Linked DNA regions of Homo sapiens: region 2 is linked to region 1. Evidence: fine-mapped expression QTL. A gene starts in region 1. The other region holds a variant in brackets. All regions are shown on one strand. Distances are between the middles of the regions.

Evidence for each region. PIP is the estimated chance that this variant, and not a neighbour inherited with it, causes the effect. A credible set is the group of variants that fine-mapping cannot tell apart.
Region 2: its variant is the best candidate, but not a certain one, in a credible set for the expression of SLC16A11 in whole blood (INTERVAL, PIP 0.65).

The regions. Positions count from the first base shown.
Region 1 is chr17:7,041,017-7,046,384 of GRCh38, forward strand. It overlaps SLC16A11 (solute carrier family 16 member 11), which reads right to left and starts at 3,076. Exons shown (of 5, transcript NM_001370549.1): 1 at 2,759-3,076; 2 at 2,296-2,503; 3 at 1,914-2,057; 4 at 980-1,747; 5 at 605-892. The coding sequence starts at 2,497. The coding sequence ends at 663. It overlaps LOC124903909 (a long non-coding RNA gene), which reads left to right and starts at 2,051. Exons shown (of 2, transcript XR_007065598.1): 1 at 2,051-2,224; 2 at 5,166-5,368. RefSeq lists silencers at 953-1,022, 1,133-1,522, 2,423-2,482, 2,553-2,682.
Region 2 is chr17:7,128,452-7,133,819 of GRCh38, forward strand. It overlaps LOC105371512 (a long non-coding RNA gene), which reads left to right and starts at 2,796. Exons shown (of 3, transcript XR_934191.3): 1 at 2,796-2,877. RefSeq lists enhancers at 2,507-3,044, 5,175-5,284. The variant T/C (reference allele first, on the strand shown) is at 2,811.

The sequences.
Region 1 (5,368 bases):
CAAAAATTAGCCGGGTGTGTTGGCGTGTGCCTGTAGTTGCAGCTACTGGGAAGGCTGAGGCAGGAGAACTGCTTGAACCCAGGAGGCGGAGGTTGCTGTGAGCCAAGATCGCGCCACTGCACTCCAGCCTGGGCAACAGAGGGAGACTCTGTCTCAAAAAAAAAAAAAAAAAAAAAAAGAAGGAAAGAAAAGAAATTGAGAGAATGCTGAGGACACAGGGTATAGATGTGTGAATAGCTTTGATAGAGCTGAAGTCTGGGCCTAGGATTCTTGTATTTCCCTCAGGCCCATAGAAGGAGATTGAAATGCAGGGAAGAGTTAAGTCTGGGAGGTCTGGGAACTAGGGTAAGGGACATGAAGATGGGGCAGATAGCACCCACTAGCAACCCGCCCCCAACCCCAGCAACACACTGAAACTGGCTGCCAGACAACTTCGCAAAGATTCCCTGTTACGGCCAGGACTTGGGCAAAGAGAAATGGATTGGCTGGACAGTCACCCTTCTTCATACCCAGGGCCTTCTGGGATCCTGTTCCTTTGAACCAGCCTTTCTGGCTGTCTTATGTAGAATATTTTCAGGGTCCTAGATTGGTGAACAGTTGGAGGTTTCAGGAAAACCCGATAAAAATTCTTTATTGGGGGAGGGGCTCAAACAAGAAAATAATCAACAAGTGGTGTCCAGAGTGGAGCCAGGGCCTCCTGGGGACAGCAAGACTGCCTGGGGAGCGGGAAGCAGCTCCCCCGTCTCTGGGGGAGGCGTGGCTGGAGGGGAGGCTGGACCACAGGAGGGCAGCGCCCTGGGCAACCCTATGTAGATGAAGCTGCCGGAGAGGATCAAAGAACCAGACAGGAGGAAAGAGGCGGTGAAGTCTCCTGTCTCATCCCTTAGGAAGCCTGAGGAGATGGGTAAGGGCATTTAGAAGCCTCGAACCCCAGGGGCAGAGGATAGTTGTAGGCAGATCTGTGAGCTCAGGTCCTTACCTGACAGGGGAGGGCCCAGGAGCCCCCCGAGGCTCATCAGCATCATCACCAGCCCTGTGGCCTGCACCACACCTCCGACGCCCACCAGCCCGGGGAGTACACCGAAAACCAGCGGGGCGTAACTCCCCGCGCTCAGCCCATAGGCCACAGCCGCGGCCAGCAGGGGACCCCCCCAGCTCTCTTCGCCGCCCACCACGGGCACCAGCCCCACCACCCACAGCCCCAGCCCAGTCAGAGCCCCGAATACGGCCAGCAGCCGCGGGAGGGGCACCCAGCCTTGGTCTGCCAGCCACCCGCAGACCAGCCGGGCGCCCGCATCCCCCATCGCAGCCACGGCCACCACCAGCGCTGCTCCGTATCCCCCCAGGCCCCGGTCTAAAGCGTGGGGAGCCAAGTGCACGTAAGGAACGAAGTACCCGCCCCCAACCAGGGCTGTGCCTAGAGCAAAGATTGAGAAGGCCCGGCGTGTGAACAGACTCAGGCCGAGGGCAGCTAGGGGACTACGCGGTGGGGCTGGGGGGTCTCCAGGAAGGACCAGGGGTAGCAGCAGGGCGCCACAGGGGGTGAGGTGGAGGGTGATCGCGCCGAGGAGGAGCAGAGCGCCCCGCCAGCCGAAAGTATCGAGAAGAAGCTGCAAGGCGGGCGCCAGGAGCAGCGAGGAGGCCCCGTTGCCGGTGAGCGCCAGCCCCACCGCCAAGACTCGACGGCGGGAGAAGTAACGCGAGAGGGTGCCTAGGGCGGGGGCGAACACCAGGGCCCAACCAAAGCCTGCGAATGAATAGGAGGGGATGGGGGCCGGCACTGGGGACGCCCGCCCCAGCATTCCCAGCCCGGCTCTCCGCACCAGGCCCCCGCCTCGTTCGCTACCCCAGATCCCAACAAGCTCCTGTCACCTCCTTCACCCTGAATGACCCGGGCATCCCACTTCCCTCACCAGCGAGGAGGCCCAGGCCGAGGTAGAGATGCAGCAGATCGCTGGCGAAAGCCGAGAAGACGAAGCCCAGCGAGGCGAGGACGCCCCCAACCATCACCACGGGGCGGGCCCCCCAGCGCGTGCTCAGGGCGCTGCCCACGGGGCCTGAAAGGGGGCGGAGTCAACGGAAGACACGCCCCCGGGCCCCCAAACTCTCTCCAACACTTCTCATTGGCTGTTTGCCTCCCTCGAACTAATGGTTCTTCTCCTTGACCTCAAGATGCACTCTTTTCTAGAGCCGGTTGCCCTTTCTCAGGTTGTCGGGTAATCAGGTGGGTCTCCCATCCCTCCACTCACGGCTCCTCCTCCCCGTTCCTGTCTCCCGCCTCAGGGCCCCCCTCACTGGCTGCCTGCTGCACGGCCAGGGCCAGGGCGCTGATCCACGCAGTGTCCTGGGCGCTTCGGTCAAAGTGCTCGGCAAGGTCAGGGAAGGCAAGGCCCAGCGAGCGCAGCAGCCCGTAGGACAGCCCGTTTATCGCGAAGGCTGCGGCCGCCACCACCCAGCCCCAGCCCCCATCCGGGGGTCCGGCGGGCTGGGGGGTCATCGCCGTCTGCGGGGTGGGGAAACATCTGTGAGAGAAGCCTCCACGCCTGTGCTTCCGCTGGGGAGCTGGCATCCCTGAGATCCAGCCTCTGGCTGCTCGCCCGGGGTGGGCCCGTCACTCCGAGCGCGATGGCGCGGGGCGGAGGGAGCCGGAGCCTGGCCTAGGGCTGGAACTCCCGGGTCCGCGCGAGGTACGGGGACGGGGACAGCCAGATCCCCAGGCCCGAGGTTCCCCGTCCCACGCACACTCCTTCCCCCTTACCCGACCTCTCCGGGCGGTGCGGGGAGGGGAAGGGTGAGGAAGGGCTGGGCCCGGCTTTCTCTCTGCTTCCCAGGCGGGCGGGGGCCCCGAAGGGGAGCGAGGGCAGCGATGGAGCCCAACTTGGACGGGCTCTCTCGGTAAACAGAGATCACCACAGGGGCCTGAGCCACCTGGGACGCGGGGTGTACGGAGGGCGGGGGCGAGCTGAAACAGCCAATCCGGCAAGCCGCGCGTGAGGCCAGACGCCAGTCCCACGGGGATTGAATTATGTACACACACAACCCCCAGGCCCGGGGGAGGGGGGAGCGGCGAGAAATGAATGCAGAGGGGCCCTGCCCTACTCACACGCATGCACCTGCCGCCTGCTGCGCGCAGGGGAGACACGTGGATTGCAAACCCCAGCGAGCCCAGGGTCCACCGCCAACGCGTGGAAATAGGGATGGTCCCCAAAACCTGAGGGGATGAGTAGTTTTGTTCTCAGGAACGTTGCCGAGGACCAGGTAAATCTCGGATATCAATCAGATCACAGACCTCCACCAAGTGCCAGCTCTGTGCTTAGAATAACAGACCCCCAGGCCGGGCGCGGTGCAAGCCTGTAATCCCAGCACTTTGGGAGGCCGATGTGGGTGAATCACCTGACGTCAGGAGTTCGAGGCCAGCCTGACCAACATGGCGAAACACCATATCTACTAAAAATACAAAAAAAATTAGCCGGGTGTGGTGGCGGGCGCCTGTAGTCCCAGCTACTTGGGAGGCTGAGGCGGGGAATCGCTTGAACCCGGGAGGCAGAAGTTGCAGTGAGCCAAGATCATGCCACTGCACTCCAGCCTGGGTGACAGAGAAAGACTCTGTCTCAAAAATAAATAAATAAACAAAAATAAAATAAATAAAATAAAATAACAGGTCCTCAAGGACAGAGGGATGAAACACGACTCCCTCAATGTGAAGACCTGCAGTGTACCAGGCACCGTTTACACATGCTATCACTTCATCTTATGATAACCCTATGAAGAAGGTGTCGCTTTTCTTTTTTTTTTTTTTTAGATGGAGTTTCACTCTGTAGCCCAGGCTGGAGTACAGTGGCGAGATCTCGGCTCATTGCAACCTCTGCCTCCTAAGTTCAAGCCATTCTCCTGCCTCAGCCTCCTGAGTAGCTGGGATTACGGGCGCCTGCCACCACTCCCAGCTAATTTTTGTATTTTTTAGTAGAGATGGGGTTTCGCCATGTTGGCCAGGCTGGTCTGGAACTCCTGACCTCAGATGATCCGCCCACCTCGGCCTCCCAAAGTGCTGGGATTACAGGAGTGAGCCAACGCGCCTGGCCGATGTCGTGCCTCTTTTATAGATGCAGTAACTGAAGCTCTCAGGGAAAAAATGGTATGGATATTTGAATTTAGGTCTGTCCAACTGTGGACCTACAAGGAGAACAATCCCAGGACTGAAACAAAATCTGGCACAGTTAAGGGAAAGATCCTGGATACAGCTTGAAGCAAACTGCCCTGGAAAGGGTGGAACCATTGCAGGGACAGAAAACTTATGAGTCTAAAATAAGGGGTCACTGGGAATAGAAAGGATTCTTGAGATCAGAATCTCTAAACACTTAGGTTAGAATTTTATTTTTTATTATGTATGTATGTATGTATGTATGTATGTATGTATGTATGTATGTGTGTGTGTATTTATTTATAGAGACAGGGTCTTGTCCAGGCTGAAGTGTAGTACTGCCATTATGGCTCACTGCAGCCTCCACCTCCCAGGCTCAAGCAATACTCCACCTCAGCCTCCCGAGTAGCGAGGACTACAGGCTCCACACCACCATGCCTGGCTAAATTTGTTCATTTTTTTTGTAGAGAGGGGGTCACAGCATGTTGCACAGGCTGGTCTCAAGCTCCTGGACTTAAGCAATCCTTCCACCTCGGACTCCCAAAGTGCTGGGATTACAGTCTACCATGCCTGGCCAGGTTACAATTTTAAAAGCAAAGTAAAAAATCAGGTCATTGAAGCCAGGTATTGATTTTTTGAAAAACTTTATAGAAAATGTCCTTTTTTGATAGGTTGACATTCTTTACCTCAGCTCTTTGAATTCAGAGATGTGTTCTTTGGTTTAATTATTAAACAATATGATAGAACATTCAGCAACTTAAGTTTGGAGCATGCATCCATTGAGCCACATGATGGCAGTGTTTCCTAATTATTGGGAAAGAATCTGCACGTAAAGACAAGAAAAACAGCTTCTTAAGGAGCAAAACTGTAAACATAAAAGACACAGCATGACTATAGGCAATGGCTCTCCATTGCCTATAGACGGGAAAAATTACATTTCTCTATTTGTACAGGTCTTTTACAATAATCAAAGGTAGACCTAGGTTACCGTTCCAAACCATCTCCCCTCTCTCCCTTTTGCCAGCCTCCCATCAGCCACTGTCTTCTCTGCTCTGTGGACATGCCTAGCTTTTTCTCACTCCTTAATTTTTGCATATGTCATGCTCTCTGCTTGAAACGTCCTGTTGTTCATGAAGGTCCTGACAGACACACCTTAGGAAAGTGGCCCCACCGGTTTCCCCAGCCTGGAGTGCTGTTATGAAAGCCACCAGGGAGGCGGAGCCAGCA
Region 2 (5,368 bases), 87 kb after region 1:
TAAATATATAGGCAACAAAGTAAATCCAACATGTAGTATTAATACATTTGTGCCAAATTTAAGATAATCTATATTTGGTATTATAATGTGTAAGAAAATTCAGCATACTAAAAGATTTGAAATTAGCCTGTGATAGCAAATTAAAATACAAAATGAAGTACTTGATTTTAGACTCGTGCTTTCTTTTTCAGTTGAAATGTATGAAATAATTTGATTAGGTTTGTAAACAATGTTGGAATGTTGAAGAGTCCTTGAGATTCCTTATGAATATTAATTTGCCTTATTTACTTAGTTTTTGATTGTTAAAATCAAATCCTTAAAATACACCAAATGTGTAAACTCAGTTTAAAAATGTTTCTAGGCATTTAACTGCATTGTGAATGAAGCTGATTATTTAAGAGAGTTTCGTGTCTTTGACTTTCATTATTATGCAATAATCAGTGAGAAGGTAAAGTCGGTGGCTCTTATTTAGCACAATTTATTAAAAGAATAATTACGGCCAGGCACGGTGCCTCACACCTGTAATCCCAGCACTTTGGGAGGCCGAGATGGGTGGATCCCCTGAGGTCAGGAGTTCGAGACCAGCCTGGACAACATGGTGAAACCCAGTCTCTAATAAAAATACAAAAAGTTAGCCTGGCGTGGTGGCACTTGCCTGTAGTCCCAGCTACTCTGAAGGCTGAGGCAGGAGAATCGCTTGAACCCAGGAGGCGGAGGTTGCAGTGAGCTGAGGTTATGCCATTGCACTCCAGCCTGGGTGACAGAGTGAGACTCTGTCTCGAAAAAAAAAAGAATAACTACTTTTATAAGCTGAACTTACAAGAAGTTTAAGGAAAAATTAGATTTAAAATGTACTTTAACAAACTGACAATTTCTTTAAGGAAACAAAATGATAAACAGTTCATTCAGTACACAAATACCAGCATGAACATGAAAAGCTCTCCTTGACTTTAGGGTCCACATGCCAAATGGCAGGGTCCAAGGCAGGCCACCGGAGACAGCGCCCCACCCATGCCAAGACCACCTGCAGCAGCGCCACCCCGGACCCCCCTTTCACCAGGCAAGTGGACAGGGCAAACATGGACAGGCCCCCGGCACCAGTCTGAGAGGCCCAGAGGCTAAGAGGGTGGGCTTCATGCCCCGGCTACCCGTGTCCCCACATCAGGAGACTGTGCACCCCCACCACACCCCTCTCCTCTTTCCTCCTTGCTCTGTTTTTCTCCACAGCACTCATCGCCATTTGATAATGAATGTTATGTATTTCGGTTATTATCTTTCTGCACATACAGCCAGGCATGGAGACTTAGGCTCACTCAGTCCTAAATCCCCAGCACCTAGAAAGGTACCTGTGCTTGGTCTGTCCCCATAAATCTGTGTTGCATGAAGGCACTGATGGCCTCAGCTCCTGCTTTGTGCCCCTCTCCCTGTCTGGACTGCCAGCTCCCTGACCTCAGGAACTACCTTACTCACCACTCAATGTCCAAGCCCAGCACCAACCCAGAAAAAAAAAAGAGTCAGACGCATGTAAAAGTGACTCCCTGTGGGAAGCCAGGCAGGGCCTTCAGAATCAAACGTGATCTTGAATTCTGGTTCTGCCACTTACCAGCCATAAGGGAACCTTGGATAAGTGACTCAAGGTTTCTGATATTCAGTTTCTTCAGCTGGAAATGGGTATAATAATACCTGCCTCACTCGGTTCTTGTTGGTATTAAACAGGTTAATGTAAGGCAAAGTGTCTAACACTGAGCCTTTTTTTTTTTTTTTTTTTTTTTTGTATAAGCAAAGCCCTCACATTGTAGGTGCTCAGTGAAAATCAATTCCTTAACTCTCATGGTAGGTACTCAAAGAAAATCAATTACTGGCTGGGCACTGTGGCTCACGCCTGTAATCCCAACACTTTGAGATGCCAAGGTGGGTGGATCACGAGGTCAGGAGATCAAGACCATCCTGGCCAATGTGGTGAAACCCCGTCTCTACTAAAAATACAAAAATTAGCTGGGTGTGGTGATGCGCGCTTGTAATCCTAGCTACTCGGGAGGCTGAGGCAGGAGAGTCGCTTGAACCCGGGAGGCGGAGGTTGCAGTGAGCCGAGATTGTGCCACTGCACTCCAGCCTGGCAACAGAGCAAGACTCCATCTCAAAAAAAAAAAAAAGAAAAAAGAAAAGAAAATCAATTCCTTTACTCATTTTAACTTCCTCCAGTTGCTGCAGAAAAAGCTCTGCTTCCCTCCCCCTGAGCTTCAGGTGCTTGACTTATATTTACTCCCCTGGGGAATGACAGGAGTCAATATGGGCGGGCTGGAGAACCTGGCACCTGAGCCCCAGAGGAAGGCCCCAGCTTCCTGCAGCTCGGGCTGGCGGATGGGAGCAGAAGCATCAGTTCCTGGTTGGGAATTTGGAGACACCAACAATTTGGGGAACTTCAAAAGCAGGAAGCAAAAAAGATGTGAGAGAAAGGGGAAACACCAACCCTCCTAGACAGCCCCCCTCCCCACCCCCAATCACAAAAATGCGGAGCCCAGGAGAGCCAACTCCTGGGAAGGGACGAATTCCCAGTTCCTACCCCGGCCCATCTCCAGCCTGGTCCAGAACTCAGTCCTGAACCCAGCTCCCGGCTCCCACACCTCCATCAGCCCCAACCCCACTAGCAGCCTGTCCCAGGCCCAATTCTAACAAAGACAAGGGGTGGGACCCTGGAGAAAGTGGGGTTCCCCAAATCACGAGAGAATTCCCTGGCCTCTCTGCCATCTGTTTCCACTTCCCCTGGTCTCTGTCTTCCTGTGTTTATCTGCCTCATTCCGTACTTCGGC[T/C]GTTCCCTCCTCCACAGGCTCTCTCTCTGCCTGTCTCTGGCTCATTCACTCACATATTACACAGCAGGTATGTGCTGGGGAAGAGGGAGCAGGCCAGTGAGTGAAAGCAGAGGAGGCAGAGGATGGGGCCAGAGAGGGAGGCAGGGGCTGGATCACGGGGACCTCCAGGGCATGGAAGGCCGGAAGAGTTTTCTTCTCTGTGAAATAGGGAATTATTGATGAGTTAAACAAGGCGACACATAGCCTGATTACATTTTTTAAAGTCACCTTCAGGCTGCTGTATGAGGATGAACCTTTAGGGGTGAGAGTTGGCAGGGGATGTTGTTGCCAAAGTCCCAAAAGAGAGATGACGATGGTGTTTGGGACTGGAGGTGGCTGTGACAACAGTGAGAAGATGTCAGATTAAAAGCAGATCATGTCAGGGTGCGGTGGCTCACGCCTGTAACCCCAGCACTTTGGGAGGCTGAGGTGGGTGGATCCTCTGAGGTCAGGAGTTCAAGACCAGCCTGGCCAACATGGAGAAACCCCATCTCTACTAAAAATACAAAAAAAAAAAAAAATTAGCTGGGCATGGTGGCAGGCGCCTGTAATCACAGCTACACAGGAGGCTGAGGCAGGAGAATCGCTTGAACCCGGGAGGCGGAGGTTGCAGTGAGCCAAGATTGTACCACTGCACTCCAGCCTGGGCGCCAAGAGCGAAGTCTCCGTCTCAAAAAACAAAAGGGTAGATAGTGAATCTTGGAGGAAGAACCATCAACTCAGCACTGGCTGGGGAGGGCCTGTGGGCGAGGAAAGGAAGGCTTCCTGAAGAAGCTTTGTATGCTGCTGAGAAAGTGACAGCAGGGTTAACTGAGCGGGAAGAGGGGGCAGGAATGGGTTAAACGCGCAATGTAGAAAGAGGAACTGAAAGGGCCGGGCGCGGTGGGTCATGCCTGTAATCCCGGCACTTTGGGAGGCCCAGGGAGGCAGATCACTTGAGGTCAGGAGTTCGAGACCAGCCTGGCCAACATGGTGAAACTCCATCTCTACTAAAAATATAAAATTAGCCGGGCGTGGTGGCACGTGCCCGTAATCCCAGTTACTCGGGAGGCTGAGGCAGGAGAATCCCTTGAACCCAGGAGGCGGAGGTTGCAGTGAGCTGAGATCACGTTATTGCACTCTAGCCTGGGCAACAAGAGCAAAACTCCATCTCAAAAAAAAAAAAAAAAAAGAAAGAAAGAAAGAAAGAAAAGAAAAGAAAAAGAGGAACTAAAAAGAGCTCAATTTGGGATAGACGGTGTTTGTGTTTGAGGTCCCTGTTAGACCCTAAGGTGAGATGCCAGGGCAGAAGCTGAATAAACAATCCAGGCAGGAACACACACTCACACACATTGACCCCAATCCCATGAGCCCCATTGTCCTGAAGACACATCCCTGCTCCTGCCCAGCTGGTCCCTGACCCCTGACCCCTGGCTATGCTGGCCTCAGATCTGTGTCTCCTTCTCAAGTCATTGGCCCCCAGGGCCACTGTCCCTCCGTCTCCACTGGGTGCACTGGAAAGGCAGGGTGAGGTACAAGAAGCCCCATTTAAAACCATGAAATCAGCAGCTCAAACACCAGAAAGTCCCCAGCTTTTGCAACAGCTCATAAGGACTGGTGTTTCCTGCGAGCAGTGACACCCTGCAGGTTTCTAAACTCTGCTTCTCTTTGTTTTGTAAAGCAGTGTTCTATCAGTCCCGGAAAGCCCCTGGAGTGGATCACGCCTCCCTAATCTACCGTGTTCTGCATTTATCTGCATCTGCAATGTTTGTTGTGGTCTTGTTGCTAGAGGCCTCGTTCCCCCTGCCTGGTTTATAAAATCCATGTAACCCAGGATTTTTTGTGGTGTGGATACTCTACATTGAAAGGACATGCATGCTTTCTATTTTATTTATTTATTTATTTATTATTTTTATTTTTATTTTTATTTTTGGAGACGGAGTCTGGCTCTGTTGCCAGGCTGGAGTGCAGTGGCGCGATCTCGGCTCACTGCAACCTCCACCTCCCAGGTTCAAGCGATTCTCCTGTCTCAGCCTCCCGAGTCGCTGGGACTACAGGCGCTCGCCGCCACGCCTGGCTAATTTTTTTTTTTTTTTTTTTTTTTTTTTTGTATTTTAGTAGAGACGATGTTTCACCGTGTTGCCCAGGCTGGTCTCCAACTCCTGAGCTCAGGCAATCCGCCCGCCTTGGCCTCCCAAAGTGCTAGGATTACAGGCGTGAGCCACCGTGCGCGGCCGACATGCATGCTTTTGAAATACCACAAGGGCACTGGGGACTGGAAACAGGAACGGAAACAGGAAAGGTTCCCTTGTCCCCGTCGCAGGGCGTGTGACAGCGGGAATAGCTCGTTTTTTCAGAATCCCACTGCTCAAACCTCTAGGGGGAGCCTGCTGACGGGCAGCTTGTGGGGCTCCAACCCCACGGCAGCATCTGGGGGTGAATGCTTACAGCTCCTGAAGCCCCAGTGGGCGTGTGTGACGGGGGCTCTTTCAGTTTTGCCGTCTGTAGGCGGCTTGTGTTCATCAGCTCTATTAGACCTT